2 separate regions of the Homo sapiens genome follow, and region 2 is linked to region 1. The links come from fine-mapping of genetic effects on gene expression. A gene starts in region 1. The other region holds a variant in brackets. All regions are shown on one strand. Distances are between the middles of the regions.

What was found.
Region 2: its variant is fine-mapped to the expression of IL18BP in cerebellum (GTEx, PIP above 0.99). The same link has a PIP of 0.9 or more in esophagus muscle.

The regions. Positions count from the first base shown.
Region 1 is chr11:71,993,758-72,002,786 of GRCh38, reverse strand. IL18BP (interleukin 18 binding protein) reads right to left here and starts at 3,878. Exons shown (of 6, transcript NM_001039660.2): 1 at 3,768-3,878; 2 at 2,775-2,860; 3 at 2,230-2,436; 4 at 1,463-1,586; 5 at 1,235-1,382; 6 at 1-1,003. The coding sequence starts at 2,802. The coding sequence ends at 926. RNF121 (ring finger protein 121) reads right to left here. Exons shown (of 9, transcript NM_018320.5): 7 at 7,935-8,068; 8 at 7,236-7,337; 9 at 5,190-6,592. The coding sequence ends at 6,472.
Region 2 is chr11:71,728,175-71,737,428 of GRCh38, reverse strand. It overlaps the pseudogene ENPP7P8. Among named protein-coding and RNA genes, the nearest start is that of DEFB108B, 100 kb to the left of the region's middle. RefSeq lists an enhancer at 1,943-2,816. The variant G/C (reference allele first, on the strand shown) is at 5,103.

The sequences.
Region 1 (9,029 bases):
TCCATACCACCTCCTTTCTCTCATCCCTTTTCCTGAGGCCACATCTTTCCAGGCTCTTCCCACTCTCCATTAGTGGCCTCTGCTCCCGGGGAGCATTATGGGCTGTTCTCTCTTTTCTTTTTCAAGCGCCTGTGTTCCCCTGAAGCAGGTGTTGTCTTCAGCTTCTGTGTGGCAGTCCCTCTCTCCCATACTCCCTCGTGGGACAGGCAAAGTTCCTGGGAGTGGAACTGAAGCCTAAATGAACAGATGTCAGGATGCCTCCATTGAATAATCCTTTATGAGGACCCATGTGGGGATGACACAGATACAGTGTGGATCCGAAGCAGCTGCTGCCCCCATCCCTTCCCTGGAACAGTCCATTAGAGTGAAGGGGGAAAAAAAAAACATACAGCACGAAGATAGGAAGTCTGCAGAATGCGGCCAGAGCTGAAAGAGGATGACTTCACTGAAGAGGCAGCATTTCAACCAGGCTTGAGCGTTCCCCTGCTGGGGCGGTGAGGAAGACGGGACTAAATGAGCAGAGACATGGGAGTGGGAGCTGTCTGGGAAAAGCAAGAATAGTTGGGAGGCTTCCAGAAAGTCATGTGGGAAATGCAGGTAGGGCCCTGGAGTGCAAGGCTAAGGCATCAACAGTCTTGGTGGTTTCTGAGCAGTAGAGCAGTGTGAGGAGTAGGACGTTAGGAAGGCTAATGGATAGGTGGAGAGAGAATGGCAGGAGGAGGAGGCATTATAAGGAGGCTGTGATTTTCTAGGTAGGTGGGAATGGAGTTTGAATTTGGTGAGAGAAGGGACCCAAAGCAGAGAAGGAGGGGGTGTGTTGCGCATCCACGCAGCCTACAGGCAGTCAGGGACTGTTCACTCCAGGTAGACAGGTAGGACCCAAGCTCTGGTCAAGGTTGTGCTGCTGCTGGCCCTGTGCTGAGTCTTAACCCTGCTGCTGTGGACTGCTGTGGCTGGAGGGCAGGGCTTCTTGGGTGGGGGGCAAGGTTGCCCTCAGCCCAGCCTAGGGAAGTGAAGGCAGACAAGGATCAGGCCAAGGAAAGGAGGGACATCTCATCACTTTGCCCCAGGCTACACCTCCTCTGCCCAAGACCTAAGTTCCTTTTTGTCTGGCTGACCTTGAGGAATGCTGGGCATTAGTTCACAGGCTGCTCTGGCAGAGCCCACCCTTTCCTCCCCACATATGGAAGCAGAGCTCCTCCTGTTCCTGGAGGCCTCTCCTTGGGCTCCTCACCCAGAGCTGGGCCAGGACGACGTGACGCTGGACAACCTGTTCAGGGTCCACGAGCACACAGGAGAAGTTGGTGCTGTGCAGGGCAGGGGTCAGCTGCTCCAGCACCAAGGCCTTGCACAGCTGCGTACCTGTGCTCCCACGTTCCCGGCTGGAGCGGAAGGGAAGGAAAGGTCATGAGAAGGCCGCAGAAGGCCTCCTTCCCACCCACCTGGCTGCTGCGACCCTCACCTGGTGCTCCCCTCCCACAGTCGGCCTGGGAGGTGCTCAATGAAGGAACCATTGCCCAGCCAGTAGAGGATGCTGAAGTTGGGGAAGCGGCTGCAGGCCACACAGGATAAGCTCAGCGTTCCATCTAGGGACACAGGCAGCAGTTAGCTCTTCAGAAGAGCAGGCCCTTCCCCTACCCTGCTCTGCTGTGCCCTCCCTGCCAGCTCCCCCCAGTCCCCATGCATCTGGAACCTAGAGAACTGCTCTGCACACCACCTAGGTGGGAACGTCCGTTACAGAAGTGCAGTTGTCTCCGAGAGGCCCTAGCCCTAAACACGGGGAATGTGAGGAATGGTCCTTGGTTCACGTGATGAATCCTCTTCTGAACCTGTCTCCTCAGGATGACCTTTTCTAGTGCCCAGCCTCGGTGACTTGGGAGCCCAGGTGACAAAGGCAGTGCTGGATGGCTGCTGCTCCTCTGAGATGGCCAGAGGCCAGCAGGCTCTGGGTGGAGGGGCTGGCCTTGGGGTCCACTGCAACCAAGGCTCTGGGAGGTCCTGTGACCATTACTTATGTCTTGAGTTCTCTGTCCTATTTGATAGGGAGCATCTTGGGAGCTGCGCCAAGCCTGCACCCATGACACTGGGTTGGGGAGGGAGAATGGTGCGTGCTCAGCCCAGCTGGCTCAGCTGGTGGTACATGGGCAGAAGGGGACTGGCGCTCAGGAGTCAACCCGACCCTGGGAACCTCTGTGCCCATAGCCCACCCTCCACCACTGTGCTTCTTACTCAGTGGCACTTCCACCTCTGGCCAGGTCACTTCCAATGCTGGACACTGCTTAGCTGCTGGGAACACTGGGGGCTGGGAGGGGCAGGGGTCCTTTGTGCTTCTAACTGAGGCAGTGGCAGCTGTGGTGGTCTGCGAGACAGGTGTGGCTCTGACCAGGAGAGTGACGACGTGGGCACACAGGAGCAGGACCCACAAAGGGCTGAGGTCTGAGGAAAGGACAGTTACAGGTCAGCGGCTCTGGAGACAGAGTGGGCTGCCCGGGTAAGGATGTAACTCCAGCCCAGAGATGTCTGGGTTCTAGCCAGGGAATCAGAGCGGGAAGAGGGACCCCTCAGCACCCACCCCTTAGCCCTTTATTGAACAGAGTACAGAGAAGCTTTAGACTGGAGCCAGAGCTACAATATCTGCCCAGGTTCTTAAAGCAACAGCACCAGGTGCGCTGGGTGGTTTGCCTTGGAGTGAAGGCTCCGGGTTAGCCCATTGCTCCATTCTGTTCATAGACCTCACCCTACCCCGCCTGCCCATGCGTAGCCCCAAGGCCTACCTGGTGTCCAGTTGTGTCTCATGGTCATGATGCATGCGTCAGGAGCTGGTGAGCCTGGCTCTTTATCTGTGACAACGTCCTCTTCTCTGGTGAAAGGTGGGGGAGGAGAATGGTAAACCACTCCCGCTTTTTCTCAGTAGCTGGCTTTTCCTCAGTAGCTGGCTTCTCCTCCCGTAGCATAGCCTGGAGCTCTTTCAGCACTTAGAAACAGAGCTGGGGGGGTCAAGTGACAATCCTTCCCCACCCCAGCTCTCATGACCACAAATGGTTGTAAGATGCTTACCTAGTCCAATCTTACCCCTTCATTAGGGAAGGCAAAATTGAGACCCAAAGAGAGAATATGGACTCACCCAGTCACACAGGGAGGCAGTGCTCTCTTCAGCACCAGAGCTGCTTCTGGGAAGGGCAGGATGCCGAGCAATCCTTCTGGGAAAGCACTGCCCCGACCCTCTATTTCACTTTCACTTTTTAACCAGGGAATCTTGAGCAGCTGTGACACCTCTGCTTTAGCCAAAGTTCAGTGGCCAGAAACCTTCAGCTCCTGGGACTCCTACTCTCCAGAGGATACCAGACTGGGATCTCTAATCTACCCCCATGCCACCCCCAGGGTCACCTAGGGTATGAACTAGATGAGTCTCTCACAGATCAATTCTGTCCCGCCCAAGTGTCAGGACTTTGGTGTCCGCCTCCCCTCTTCACAGCCAGGTCTTTGTTTCCATATGAACAGGCATCTGCTTCCTCCTTCACCTTCACACTGACATTCAAGGGGACAACTTTCCTAGGCACTGGGGAACCCCAAGTTGGACCACTTCAGGCTCAATGCCATACCAGTCCGTCCACATCCTGGCCTTTCCCAGGCTACCCACTCCCCCAGCCACCAGCCCCAAGGTCGGCTACATCTCCCAGCACCCACCATCACACCCTCTGTCTCTCATCCTAGCCCCTCTGGCCAGAGCCACAGGTCTAGGTTCACTAGTAGTCCCAGACTCCTACCTGGCTCCTAAGAGGTCCTGAAGAGCCTTCCTTTCCAGAAGCTTCCCTCTAGGAGCTCCAAGACTCAAGTTAGCTGTGTCTAGCTGCGTGTGAACCCACCACAGGAAATACACCGAGAGCACTTCCTCCTTGTCTGTAGAACTCTCACGGCCAACCCAGGAACTGGCACACAAGCTCGAGAGCCAACCCTAACAGGAGGGAAGGGCAGGCACTTCCCGGGGAAGAGGCGGACTGGCTCAACACTGGCTCTGGCAACAGAGTCTACATCAGAATATGAATCTTGTCACTGATGGGACAAATGGCGCTGGGGCTGCGGGAGGGCCAGGATTCAGGGTGAGGCGTGTGAGGAACCTAGGATGCTAAATCTAAGGAGGTTTTCTCTCAGGGTCATGCAGTTATCCATGGAGGCAGAAAGACCAGGGCTGGGTGATCCAATGCATGCATATATTAAGTGTGGACAGGAGCTGCATGTCTGAGGTTTGTGACTCCTGTGATTGGGAGGGTGCAACGGCTGGTGACAGAGCCAGGGAGGCCCACAGATGGAACTGGGTTTGGTGGATGCATCAGGAACACAGTCAGCTGTGATCTCAAACTTCTTGTAGAAAAACCAGATTCATATTCCTAATTTAGACATAGGATACTACAAGTCACATCCTTCTTCTCTAGGTGTCTAGTTCATGTTTTTCCTCCTCTCAATTCCTCCCCCTACCTCCTGCCCCAGGGGCTTCTAGCATGTAAGATGCAGGAGAAATTCCTCCCAAGAACACCAGCATCTCCAGGAGTTAGGTCAGGAGGCAAGGCTGCCTGGGGTTTCTGAGAGAGACAGTCCAGTGGGGGATGGTAGGGAAAGATGACAGGACTCTGTCTTAGTGGAACCGAGACCAGAGTCAGGCCAAGGGGGGAGGTCAAGGGACTCAGAACTGTTACACATGAAAAGAGCTTTGGACAGCCTGGCCTCGGCTTCTCACCTGAGCCTGACAGGGGGGTGGGGGGAAAAAGTAAAAGGAAGGGTGATCCCTAGGTCCTCTGACCAGCCCCATTCCCCTCTCTGAGGAGGGGAACAGCCCCACAGGTGGCATAAGCAGCAGGGTACCATGGGAAGCCACAGCTGGGGAAGAGAAGCCGAGCCTGAGTGTGGTCCTCAGGAAGGCAGGTGGTGGCGGGACACTGTCCTCAGGCAGTGAGAACATAGAGCAACCTCAGTCTGAAGGCAGGCCCAATGATGCCCCAGGCCCCCAGGCCACAGGACAGGAGCCTGGCATTCCACCACTCCTAGGGATGTCAGCAGGGGAACAGCTGGGAACAGCAGAAAGGCAGGCCCAACCACCCCCAGACCCTCAGGTCTCCGATGGGGGTTAACAAAGGCAAGACACCCCTGGGGACCCCAGGGAAAGAGGTGGGAAGAAGAAAGCAAGATAAATGTTCAGCTTTCCAACCCAGCTCATGGAGCTTTATTCAGACGGGAGTGACAACATCCTGCTTCGTTCTTGCTGCCCTTGAAGGGGCAGGCCCTACTGAGCCATATTCCCTAGAAACCCAATGCCGAAGGCCCATGTTTGACCTCCCACTTTATTCAAGTCGCCTAGGACTAGGGCTGGGGCCTTCCTAGAAGCCCCCTCTCAGAACCTGTTCTCACCCACCCACCACTCCCGTTGTCAGGCCCAGGGAGGACCCATGAATGACAAAAATCATGTAGGGATATTCCCTGGACTGGGAATCCCCTGCCAGCTTCAAGGACATATCATCTGACACAGGGAGAAGCTGACATCTGTCATATTCTTCTGCCTCACGTACACACACACACACACACACACACGCATACGCACTCTTAGGCTTTCAAGAAGGAAGTGATGTGGCAGAGTGACCGCTGGCACGTGTCACCACTCCACTGAAGGATCCACTGAAGAATGAGCTTGCACAAGGGGCCGTCAGTCATGGCTGCCAACAATTGCCCCATGGCCCAACTATATGACCTCTATTCTTGGCTGACCACAGCCCTGCCCACGGGCGAGTATCCATGGTGCTGATTCTTCCAGTTGTCCCAAAACAAATCTTCAATGAATTCTGAGGCCCCAAGGCTTCCCTTGTTGGCCAAGTCACTGATAAGGTTCCACTTGCCTCAACCAGCCTATAGCTCTTGGACAGGGGGAGACAGAGTCAGACGCAACACCTGTCCTGTGTCCCAGACAGTGGGGGAGGGAGGACACCTGGGGCCTCAGTGCTCACCCGTGGCACAAGCCTGAGTACGTTAGCTCTTCTATACTAAGTGCACCAGGCTTGAGCCCCACACAGGGAAGAAGGGAGTGGGTGGGCTGAGGCCTTCAGCTACCTGGGAGCCCAGCAGTGTTCTCGGCCAGAGATGAGAAGGCTCCTTTAAACCAAAAATGTCATGGCTCTGCCCCCACCCTGCTTAGGCAGGGAGGGTGAAGCCTGGAGGGGGGCAATTCCTATGCTCCACAATAAAAAAAGGTTTTTTAAATATATTCATCAAAATAGTTTTCTTTTAAAAAGCCCCCCACTGCTGACAGCCCCACTGGCTGGCTCTCCATCATATCCCTCCCCAGTCCGACACAGCCAGAGGGGTCCTGAGTGGCCCAAGCACCCCTTTGAGTCTTTCCCACCCAGGAGGTCTTTGTGGGCAGGGAGGAGAGTGCCCTGAGGTCCATGGCGTGTGGGGTGGGTTTTCCACTGATGCTCTTCATCACTATTCCAGGCCCAGGATGTAGTTGATGCCTTGGACTACACCAATGATGACAGGCTGCCAGGCTACCAAGTATCGAAGCCAGTCCAGCAGTTGCCCATACATGACGTGAGGCCTCTCCCAGCTGTCAGTGTGTTAAAGAAAAGAGACTCTGTGCAAGAGCTGCCAGGAGTGATCTAGCATGGGTGGTGGGGCTCCCTGGGTCTGCCCCACTTTCCAGCTGCTCCACAGCCTAGAGGAATGGAGGCTGCTTTCTGGAAGGGCCCAGCCTCACTTCCTACTCAGGCAGCCCTCCCAACTTTGCCCTCCCCCTCCTCTTCCTCCTCACAGCCTGTCTGTTGGGGTAAAGAGCTGAATGCAGAGAAGGTGGGAGGCAGATAGAGGGGACTGGTACTGGAGGCAGGGCAGCCCTGAGAGAGGTATAGAGATAAATCCTAGTTCCCCATGACTAACATGCAGGGAGGGCCTCCTGTAACACCTTCTCTAAGAAGGAACTGCCAGTGTAAGATAACACAGCCTGAGGCTGACACAAGTCTATCTATCCGTGACAATGGCTGCAAGGAGGCTGAGAATAGGCAATAATCCTAGAATAGGGAAACTGGGGTTGTATCATGGGGGCAGGACTAGCAGCTCAGCTTCCCACCATGGTTTGACATGTTCTGGTTGGGGGCAGAAGTGAGGGCCCCAGGAGGACCCAAATGCAGGTCACACTGGCCAGTACTTTCTTCCCACAGCCCACTCCCAACAACGACCCCAATAAAGGATACGGATTGCTGAACATCCTCTTGAGGTCTACCTTCTCTTTGCAGTAGGGACACGTTTGCTTCTTTCCCACGATGCACCAGCCACGGATGCAGAACTCGTGGAAGCTGAGCACCGCTGGTCAAGGGAAATGGTGAGAGCCAGGGCGGCACTCCAGCCCCAGACAGTCTTTGAAAGGTTCAAATCCTGCCTTCGCTCTTTATCAGCTCTGTAATGTTGGGCAAGTCCCTGTGTCTGAACCTGTTTCCTCACATGTGAAGTAAGGATAATGATCCCTATCTCACAAGACTGTTATGGGGCAAAATGGAGACAATACATGGCTTTCCCAACATAGGCAGAGAATGGGAGCTGGGTAAATACATGATAAATATTACAAGTGTTATTCAGAACAGAGGATGATGCTAAACTGAGGGATCCCATTAGAGGGTCCTCTTCCCCTGTGACTGGTCAGATCTCAGGTCTGCTAGCACAGCCTCACTAGCTGCAGCCTCAGGTTCCTCTCAGACCCAGCCAGGTTGTAACCACTGTTTACCTAAGAGTGGCTCTGATCTGTGGGAAAGGGTAGGGAAGGTGGCCCTCTTGTGGCTCTCCTACACTCAAGGGTCTGGACAGCATGCCTAGGGTCATGACCACCCTCTTTCTCTCTCTCACTACAGTGTGCAGATTGCAGGAGAGATGTGGCCCAGGAGCTCGAGGCAGGATACACATGATTGCAGGACAGCCTATACGTGTTCTCAATGATCCCCTCTTCACTGACGTCCACAAAGATCTGCTGCCCACACACAGCACACACACTGTCTGAAAGATGTTTGGTAGGCATGCCCGACTCGCTGTAGAACTGAAGGAGAATAGCAGGAAGGAAAGATAGGAAAAGATGTGAGAAGCAGCCAAAGTAGGAAGCTCCACAGAGACCTCAGGCCTTCTAGAGAAGAGGCACAGTGGCAGCGGGAGGCCCAGAGTTAGAGGACATCTTTTTTTTTTTAAACTGTTTAGAAAAGGTAATCTTTTACAAGTCAAATCGACCTCATCTTTGCTGGGCAGATGGGGAGAAGTGACCAGACTAGAGACAGTTGGGAAGTTAGATGTAACAGAACCTATAAACTGGGCTGGATCAGCACCAAAGGATAAGGGGAAGGGGAGGGAGAAGGACTTGGGGCTGGTGATCAAAAGCTGTGTCAGGCAAGCCATTCTGTCGCCAGACTATGGTTCCACCAGAAATGGACAACAATATTCTCCAACATTTAAAACAGTGAAATATTAAGTGCCATGTTGGTTTGGTGACAAGGGCATTCTCAGACATTTGTGGCAGCAGCAAAAGGGGTTCAAGCCTTTCAGATAGGATTTAGCATGGTATCTCAAATTGTTGCACCTTTTGACCCATTAATTTCACTTCAAGGAATTTAAAGAAATAAGAGGAGGCTGGGCGCGGTGGCTGACGCCTGTAACCCCAGCACTTTGGGAGGCCAAGGAGGGCGGATCACGAGGTCAGGAGATCGAGAGCATCCTAACTAACACAGTGAAACCCCGTCTCTACTAAAAATACAAAAAATTAGCCAGGCATGGTGGGGGGCGCCTGTAGTCCCAGCTACTCAGGAGGCTGAGGCAGGAGAATGGCGTGAACCCGGGAGGCAGAGCTTGCAGTGAGCCGAGATCGCACCACTGCACTCCAGCCTGGGCAACAGACCGAGACTCCATCTCAAAAAAAAAAAAAAAAAGAGGAAGTGTCAAAGAAGCTTCATGAATACAGATATTCACTTAAGCATTATCATAATTAAGAAAGCAAAGAGTTTGGCATGTCC
Region 2 (9,254 bases), 270 kb after region 1:
TCCTAGAACCTCTGAAAGGAGCATGCTCCTGCTGACCTTTGATCAATTTTGGACTTCTGGCCTCCAGATAATCTTTTTTTTTTTTTTTTTTTTTTTTTTTAGACAGAGGCTTGCTCTGTTGCCCAGTCTGGAGTGCAGTGGCACGATCTCAGTTCACTGCAACCTCCACCTCCCAGGCTCAAGCCATTCTCTTGCTTCAGCCTCCCAAGAAGTGGGGACTACCGGTGCCTGCCACCATGCATGGCTAATTTTTGTATTTTTAGTAGAGACGAGGTTTTGCCATATTGGCCAGGCTGGTCTCGAATTCCTGGCCTCAAGTGATCCACCCACCTCAGCTTTCCAAAGTCCTAAGATTATTTAGGTGTGAGCCATGGCACCCGGCCCAGACATTGTTTGAAGCCACCCATTTCATGGTTCTTTGCTGCAGTGGTTGTGGAATATGAATGCACTCGTGCTGTTGGTTAGACTTTGCTGACCTTGTGTCTGTTATTCCCTGGCAGTTCTACAAGGCCTGGAGCTGATACGAAAAACCTCCCTTCTTTCCCAAATGGTCCCCAGCTTCCCCGTTCACTGAAGGCCCTGCAGTCAGGAACAGTCAGGACTTTGCACCCAGTTGTTGTGGGTGTTTGACCGACCCTTCCTCTTTTGTGATTCATGGACCCTTAGCATTGCATCACCTGGGAGCTTTTGGAATTGAAGACTCTCAGGGCTCACCCGGAAGGACCTCCTGGGCCAGAATCTGCATTTTAACAAGATGCCCAGGTGATTTGCATACATGTTCAGCTCTGAGAAGCTCTAGTAGGAGAGGCTTTAAGGTGGTAATTAGATCTTTTCTCCACCTGCAAGAATCTTAGTTTCTTCATGTTAAATCTATTAACTGTGGCAATGTCATGGGTGTTATAAAACAAAACAAAATCCTTACATCAAGAATGCACCCTGGTGTGTTATGGATATGGGTGAAATGAAATGTCTGGAATTTGCTTTAAAATGTCCTAAAATAGCAAGAAGGAAAAGAAAAGTGGGAACTGGAATGAGATTGGAGAAATGTTGACAAGTTCTTCCAGTGGGATGATGGGTGCATGGGGGTTCATGGTATAATTCTCTCCCTGCTTTTTGTGTATATGGGAAATTTCCATAATGAAAAGTTAGAGGTCGGGCACGGTGGCTCATGCCTGTAATCTCAGCATTTTGGGAGGCTGAGGTGGGTAGACTGCTTGAACCTAGGAGTTAAAGACCATCCTGGACAACATGGTGAAACCCCATCTCTACTAAAAATGCAAAAATTAGGCATGGTGACAACATGCCTGTAGTCATGTTGAGGCACAAGGTTGAGACATGAGAATCACTTGAACCCAGGAGGCGGAGGTTGCAGTGAGCCAAGATCGCACCATTTCACTCCAGCCTGGGTGACAGAGTGAGACTTGGTCTCAAAAAAATTTTTAATTTTCTTTTTTTTTTGAGATGGGTTCTTGCTCTTTTGCCCAGGCTGGAGTGTAGTGGTGTGATCTTGGCTCACTGCAAGCTCCACCTCCCGAGGTCACTCCATTCTTCTGCTTCAGCCTCCAGAGTAGCTGGGACTATAGGTACCCAGCACCATGTCCGGCTACTTGTTTGTATTTTTAGTAGAGATGGGGTTTCACCGTGTTAGCCAGGATGGTCTCAATCTCCTCACCTCGTGATCTGCCCACCTTGGCCTCCCAAAGTGCTGGGATTACAGGAATGAGCCATCGTGCCCAGCCTTAATTTTGTTTAATTTTTTTCTTTTTTGAGACAGGATCTGTAGCCCAGGCTGGAGTGCAGTGGTACGATCCCTGCTCACTGCAGCTTCTACCTCCTGGGTTCAAGCGATCCTCCCACCCCAGCCTCCCAAGTAGCTGAGACCACAGGCATGTATCACCACACCTGGCTAATTTTTTCCCTTTTTCTAGAGGCAAGGTCTTGCTATCTTGCCCAGGCTGGTCTTAAACTCCTGAGTTCAAGCAATCTTCCCATCTCAGCCCGGGAGTAATCCCAAAGTGCTGGGATTACAGGTGCGAGTCACTCTACCCAGCCTCAACTGTTTTTCATGACTCCACTTTTTCTCCCCTCTTGGAAATGAGTAGTCTTTGAGGGAATGTCTTTTTTGTCTCAATCTCTGGTTTCTTTACTCAGTGCACCTGCGTTTGGGGCTTTGTTGCTCTCCAGGCCTTTTTCAGCAGCGTTGTCCCTGGAGGGCAGGATGGCAGCTGATTGCTTCTCAGCATCTTTTAACTCAGTTTAAAGATGACTATCAACAACATCTAGTCAGCATCTGTTGCTCTCGGCAGCTGGGACTTCATTTCTTTTATCTTTCTCCACCTCTCTAATCTCTTTAAGTCTCTGTCTTTGTCATGGATACAGCATCACCTGTGTGGCCCTTAGGCTCTCTTACTTACATGTGATTTGCGTATTATGTCTTTACTTCAGGACTTCTCAACCAGGGGGTGATTTTGCCCCCCAGAGAACATGTGACCATGTCTGGAGACAATTTTGGTTGTTGCAGCTGGAGGAGGTGGTGCTACTGGCAGCTAATGGGTAGAGGCCAGTGATGCTGCTAAACATCCTACAATTCCCTGGACAAATCCCACTAAGACAAAATAATGATCCAGCCCCAAAGGTCAATAGTGCTGAAAGTGAGAGACCCTGATTCCATCTTAGAGATCATCCAAGCACACTTGGCCAAATTGTTTTTGCTACTGTCCCATGAAGAAAAGGCAGACTCATGACTGATGGCAACATCGATGGGAATTTTGTTTACCTCTTCTTTGTGGACCTTGGGATACGATGACTTACCATTTGTGCAAGTTGTGCATTGCATACCTCCAGGGGGCGCCACCCACATATTTATGAAAATGCCACCCCAGGAATTGCATAGTACATAGTCTACATGGCAATAAGCAGTTGCTCTGGTTTTGGGGTTGCCCTGGGGTGCTCTGGAACTGGGAGGAAATTTATTTCTGGCCATTAGAGGCCCTGAGCATGACATTGAGTATCCTTTCAAGAAAGGAGAAATGTTGAACAGAGAGGACCTCATTTTTATAACTCTTGACCATCATCTAGTTACGGAGCATCCACTTTTCACCCCTGGGCCATATCCATTTGACGGATGAAAAATCATCAAATTATAATATCATGGCTTATACTTTTGATAGCTTCTGCCCGGAACATGGCGGTAACAGCTTCTCATTTTCAATTGATTCATTGGGGGAGAAAATATACACGGCTGCCCTAAGACTTTCTATTACATACCATTTGTTTGACGGGATTTCTTTAGTTTCTGTAGCATAACTTATTCTAACTGGTCCTCAATCACTTTGCAATAAAACCTGAGATTGTGAAGATGTTCATTGTCATTTCCAGTGACGGAGCAGTAAGTACAGAGTTCTGGAGAGGGAAGGAATCGAGAGAGTTAAACTAGCAGAATGAGCCGCTCACCCTCAGAATTGCTTTTAGTCTTGGTGAGAACTGAGGGGAATTTTGACAGGGTTCAGGGGGACTGCGTGGAGTGGGGCTGGGAAGTGGCTGTTTGCACGTGTGGTCAGCAAATCCAGTGAGGGGGTCCATGTACTGTGGGCAGCCCCGCAGATGGAGTTGGGATTGCCCTAGACTGAGTACTGGGTCATCAGTACTCAAGACATTGAGGCCCAGGCTGGTGCAGGAGATACAATGCACTGCTTCAGCCTTTCTTCTATCGCTCCTCTCCAATGACAGTCCCCGATTTTCCACCGAGGAGTCACTAGTCCCCCACGACATGTGTGCGACTGGCCATTCCCCACCCTGATCTGGAGCTGGGGCATGTGGTCCCAGCCTGGATGTCAGTATCCTTCCACCACCCTGGCCACAGTGATTGGGTCTGAGAAGCAGATTAGCCAAAGGAGAAACAATCTTGGAAATTTCATGTTCATTCTTAAGAAAGTAAAATGGAAAGCGGGGGGAGGGTGAGGGGTCATTCTGATGATTTAGTTTTAGGACCTGGATGTAGCCACACCTGTAGCTGTCAACTCTGTGCCATAGTACTGCTTTTTTTTTTTTTCCTTCAAATTTAAATAGTTTCTAAAGGCAAGGTCTTGCTATGTTGCTTAGGCTGGTTTTGAAAAGTCCTTTTTGGGGGGATGCTTTCACTGCTTCACTTCCTTTCTATGACAGCTCAGGGAATCAGAAGACAAGGGAGATTTTTTTTTTTTTTTTTTTTTTTTTGGTTGAGACAGGGCTTGCTCTGTTGTCCAGGCTGGAGTGCAGTGGTGCAATCACTTCTCGCCACAGACTTGATCTTCTGGACTCAAGCGACCCTCCTGCTTCAGCCTCCTGAGTAGCTGGGACTGTAGGTGGGTACCAACATGCCCAGTTAATTAAATTTTTTTTTTTTTTTTAGAAGTGAGATCTCACTATGTCACCCAGGCTGGCCTCAAACTCCTGGGCTCAAGTGATCGCCCTGCCTTAGCTTCCCAAACATACAGGTGTGAGCCCCCACACCAGTCAACGCTGTGGTTTTATGCACCTGGTGCCCCCCTACGCCCTGAGCAATGATCCTCCTGCTTCAACCTCCCAAAGTGCTGGGATAACAGATGTGAAGCAGCACGTGTGGCCCACATAGTATTCTTATGGGTTAAATTGAGTCCTCCTCAAAACATGTTGAAATCCTGAATTCTAGTAGCTCAGAATGTGACCTTATTTAGAAATAGAGTTATTGCGGGTCAGGCGTGGTGGCTCACGCCTGTAATCCCAGCACTTTGGGAGGCCAAGGCAGGCGGATCACCTGAGGTCAGGAGTTTGAGACCAGCCTGACCAACATGGAGAAACCCCTTCTCTACTAAAAATTCAAAATTACCTGGGTGTGTTGGCACACACCTGTAATCCCAGCTACTCAGGAGGCTGAGGCAGGAGAATTGCTTGAACTCAGGAGACAGAGGTTGCATTGAGCTGAGATCGCGCTATTGCACTCCAGCCTGGGCAACAAGAGTGAAACTCCGTCTCAAAAAAAAAAAAAAAAAAAAAAGAAAGAAAGAAAGAAAGAAGGAAAGAAATAGGGTTATTGCAGATGCTATTGATTAGGATGAAGTCGTCCTGGAGTAGGGAGGGCCCAA[G/C]TCAATGACTGGTGTCCTTATAAAAGAGGAGAGGACACGCCGAGTCATAGAGACACAGGGAAGAAGGCCATGGATTGGACGGAAGATTGGACTGATGCGTATGCAAACCAAGAAACACTGAAGACTGCCAGGAGACCACAGGAAGCTACGAAGAGGCAAGGCAGGACTCCCCGACAAGTGCAGGAGGGAGCATGGCCCTGCTGGCACCTCCGTTTCAGACTGCTGGCTACCAGAGCCACAAGACAATCAATTTCTCTGGTTTCAAGTCACCCAGCTTTTGGTACTTGGTTGTGGCATCCCTAGGGAATGAATATAAGTACTTTCTCTTTTTTTTTTCTTTTTTTGAGATGGAGTCTCGCTCTGTTGCCCAGGCTGGAGTGCAGTGGTGAGATCTCGGCTCACTGCAGGCTCCGCCTCCTGGGTTCATGCCATTCTCCTGCCTCAGCCTCCTGAGTAGCTGGGACTACAGGCGCCCGCCACCACGCCCAGCTAATTTTTTGTATTTTTAATAGAGACAAGATTTCACCGTGTTAGCCAGGATGGTCTCCATCTCCTGACCTCATGATCCGCCTGCCTCAGTCTCCCAAAGTGCTGCGATTACAGGCATGAGCCACCACGCCCGGCCGAATATAAGTACTTTTAAATTAACTCTCCTCTTCTCTCCGTCTTCTTCTAAATCATCATTTTTGCCTAAGCAACAGCTAGGGTCTAATATGGATGTGACGACTCACCTCAAAGTGGGGTAAGCCCCCATGTGCACCAAAAGCTCCTGCTGCCTTGGCCCTGGGTTCAGAGAGTGGACCATCATTCTGGAGGCTTGCTGGAGATCTGAGCCAGGCCACAATTCTCTGTTGCCTTTAAACAAAGGCTGGTGCTCGCCCAGGCATGTAAGCTCCACCGAGGATCTATTTGGAAGACAGAATTCTGAGATGACCCCTTAGGTTCTTGCCCTGGATAAATGCCAGGTGTAATCTCCTCTCCCCTGGAGTGTAGGCAGGACCCATGGCTTGCTTCTAATCTATACCTATGAAAAAGTTGAAGGAATTTTGCAGATGTAACTAAGCCCCTAATCCATTCACTTTGAGTTAATCAAAAGGGAGATTATTCAGGGTGGGCCTGACATCTTCAGGTGAGATCTTCAATGAAGGTCTGGAGGAGAGAGACTCCTTCCTCCTGGTTTTTGTTTTTTGTTTGTTTGTTTGTTTTTGACATGGAGTCTCACTCTGTTGCCCAGGCTGGAGTGCAGTGGTACGATCTCGGCTTACTGCAACCTCTGCCTCCTGGGTTCAAGTGATTCTCCTTGAGAATCATGCCCGGCTAAGTTATGTAGAGATGGGGTTTCACCATATTGGCCAGGCTGGTCTCGAACTCCTGACATCAGGTGATCCACCTGCCTCGGCCTCCGAAAGTGCTGGGATTACAGGCGTGAGCCACCATGCCTGGCTGGTTTTGAAGAAGCCAGCCACATGAGTTCCACAGTTGCATGGAAATAAATTCTGCCAACAACCATGTGAGGTTGGGAGAAGACCCCAAGCCTCATATGACACACTAATTCCAGCCGGCACCTTGATCACAACCTTGTAAGAACCTGAGCAGAGGACCCAGCTAAAGCTGCACCCCCAGACTCATGACCCACAGGAAAGGAGAGGTAATAGATGGATGTTTTAAGCTGCTAAATTTGTGTTGATTTGTTATGCAGCTTAGAAAATGAATACATCATTCCATTTTTAAAAAATCATAAGCTAATCACACCATTCGATTTCTTTTTTTTTTTTTTTTCAGACAGAGTCTCACTCTATCGCCCAGGCTGGAGTTCAATTGCACAATCTTGGCTCACTGTAACCTCTGCCTCCCAGGTTCAAGTGATTCCCTTGCCTCAGCTCCCCAAGTAGCTGGGACTACAGGCAAGCACAACCACCCCCAGCTAATTTTTATATTTTTAGTAGAGATGGAGTTTCACCATTTTGGCCAGGCTGGTCTCGAACTCCTGACCTCAAGTGACCTGCCTGCCTCAGCCTCCCAAAGTGCTGGGGTTACTGACATGAGCCACCGCACCCGGCCTGACACACCACTCAACTTTAAGGAACTTCCAGGTGCTGTGGTCATGCCCTTCTTGTGTGGCATGCAGGTGGGGAGAGATGGGTTGGAAGATGACTGGATGGGGGCATGGAGCTAGGTGGGAAGAGGAAAAGTGTCTTGAAGGAAGTAAGTCCCTTCAGATAAGGGAGGGAGAAGCTTGATCAATATGCAGACTTTCACAGTCCTTCAGTCCTGGGGATATTGGTGGAGGGACAAGTCTTGCCTTATATTTGAGAGTTACCATCCCAGGCAGAGTCCCTACTTCCACATTCTTGCAGGTGGGGCTGGGGAGCAAATACTTAGAGGAGAAACGAACACCCTTTGTAAGCATGTGAAAAGTTTCTGGAGTGGAGAGATGATGAAGCAGGATATTTGGAGTCAACAGCCAAAGTTTTTATTTTATATTTTATTTTTTATTATACTTTAAGTTTTAGGGTACATGTGCACAACGTGCAGGTTTGTTACATATGCATACATGTGCCATGTTGGTGTGCTGTACCCATTAACTCGTCATTTAACATTAGGTATATCTCTTAATGCTATTCCTCCCCCCTCCCCTGACCCCACAACAGGCCCCAGTGTGTGATGTTCCCCTTCCTGTGTCCGTGTGTTCTCATTGTTTAATTCCTACCTGTGAGTGAGAACATGCGGTGTTTGGTTTTTTGTCCTTGCAATAGTTTGCTGAGAATGATGGTTTCCAGCTTCATCCATGTCTCTACAAAGGACGTAAACTCATCATTTTTTATGGCTGCATAGTATTCCATGGTGTATATGTGCCACATTTTCTTAATCCAGTCTATCGTTGTTGGACATTTGGCTTGGTTCCAAGCCTTTGCTATTGTGAATAGTGCCATTATAAACATACGTGTGCATGTGTCTTTATAGCAGCATGATTTATAATCCTTTGGGTATATACCCAGTAATGGGATGGCTGGGTCAAATGGTATTTCTAGTTCTAGATCCCTGAGAAATTGCCACACTGAATTCCACAATGGTTGAACTAGTTTACAGTCCCACCAACAGTGTAAAAGTGTTCCTATTTCTCCACATCCTCTTCAGCACCTGTTGTTTCCTGACTTGTTAATGATCGCCATTCTAACTGGTGTGAGATGGTATCTCATTGTTGTTTTGACTTGCATTTCTCTGGCCAGGGATGATGAGCATTTTTTTCAAGTGTCTTTTGGCTGCATAAATGTCTTCTTTTGAGAAGTGTCTGTTCATATCCTTTGCCCACTTTTTGATGGGATTGTTTGTTTTTTTCTTGTAAATTTATTGGAGCTCATTGTAGATTCTGGATATTAGCCCTTTGTCAGATGAGTAGATTGCAAAAAATTTCTCCCATTCTGTAGGTTGCCTGTTCACTCTGATGGTAGTTTCTTTTGCTGTGCAGAAGCTCTTTAGTTTAATTAGATCCCATTTGTTAATTTTGGTTTTTCTTGCCATTGCTTTTGGTGTTTTAGACATGAAGTTCTTGCCCATGCCTATATCCTGAATGGTATTGCTGAGGTTTTCTTCTAGGGTTTTTATGGTTTTAGGTCTAATATTTAAGTCTTTAATCCATCTTGGATTAATTTTTGTATAAGGTGTAAGGAAGGGATCCAGTTTCAGCTTTCTACATATGGCTAGCCAGTTTTCCCAGCACAATTTATTAAATAGGGAATCCTTTCCCCATTGCTTGTTTTTGTCAGGTTTGTCAAAGATCAGATGGTTGTAGATATGTGGCATTATTTCTGAGGGCTCTGTTATGTTCCATTGGTCTATATCTCTGTTTTTGTACCAGTACCATGATGTTTTGATTACTGTAGGCTTGCAGTATAGTTTGAAGTCAGGTAGCGTGGTGTCTCCAGCTTTGTTCTTTTGGCTTAGGATTGACTTAGCAATGTGGGCTCTTTTTTGGTTCCATATGAACTTTAAAGCAGTTTTTTCCAATTCTGTGAAGAAAGTCATTGGTAACTTGATGGGGATGGCATTGAATCTATAAATTACCTTGGGCAGTATGTCCATTTTCACGATATTGATTCTTCCTACCCATGAGCATGGAATGTTATTCCATTTGTTTGTGTCCTCTTTTAT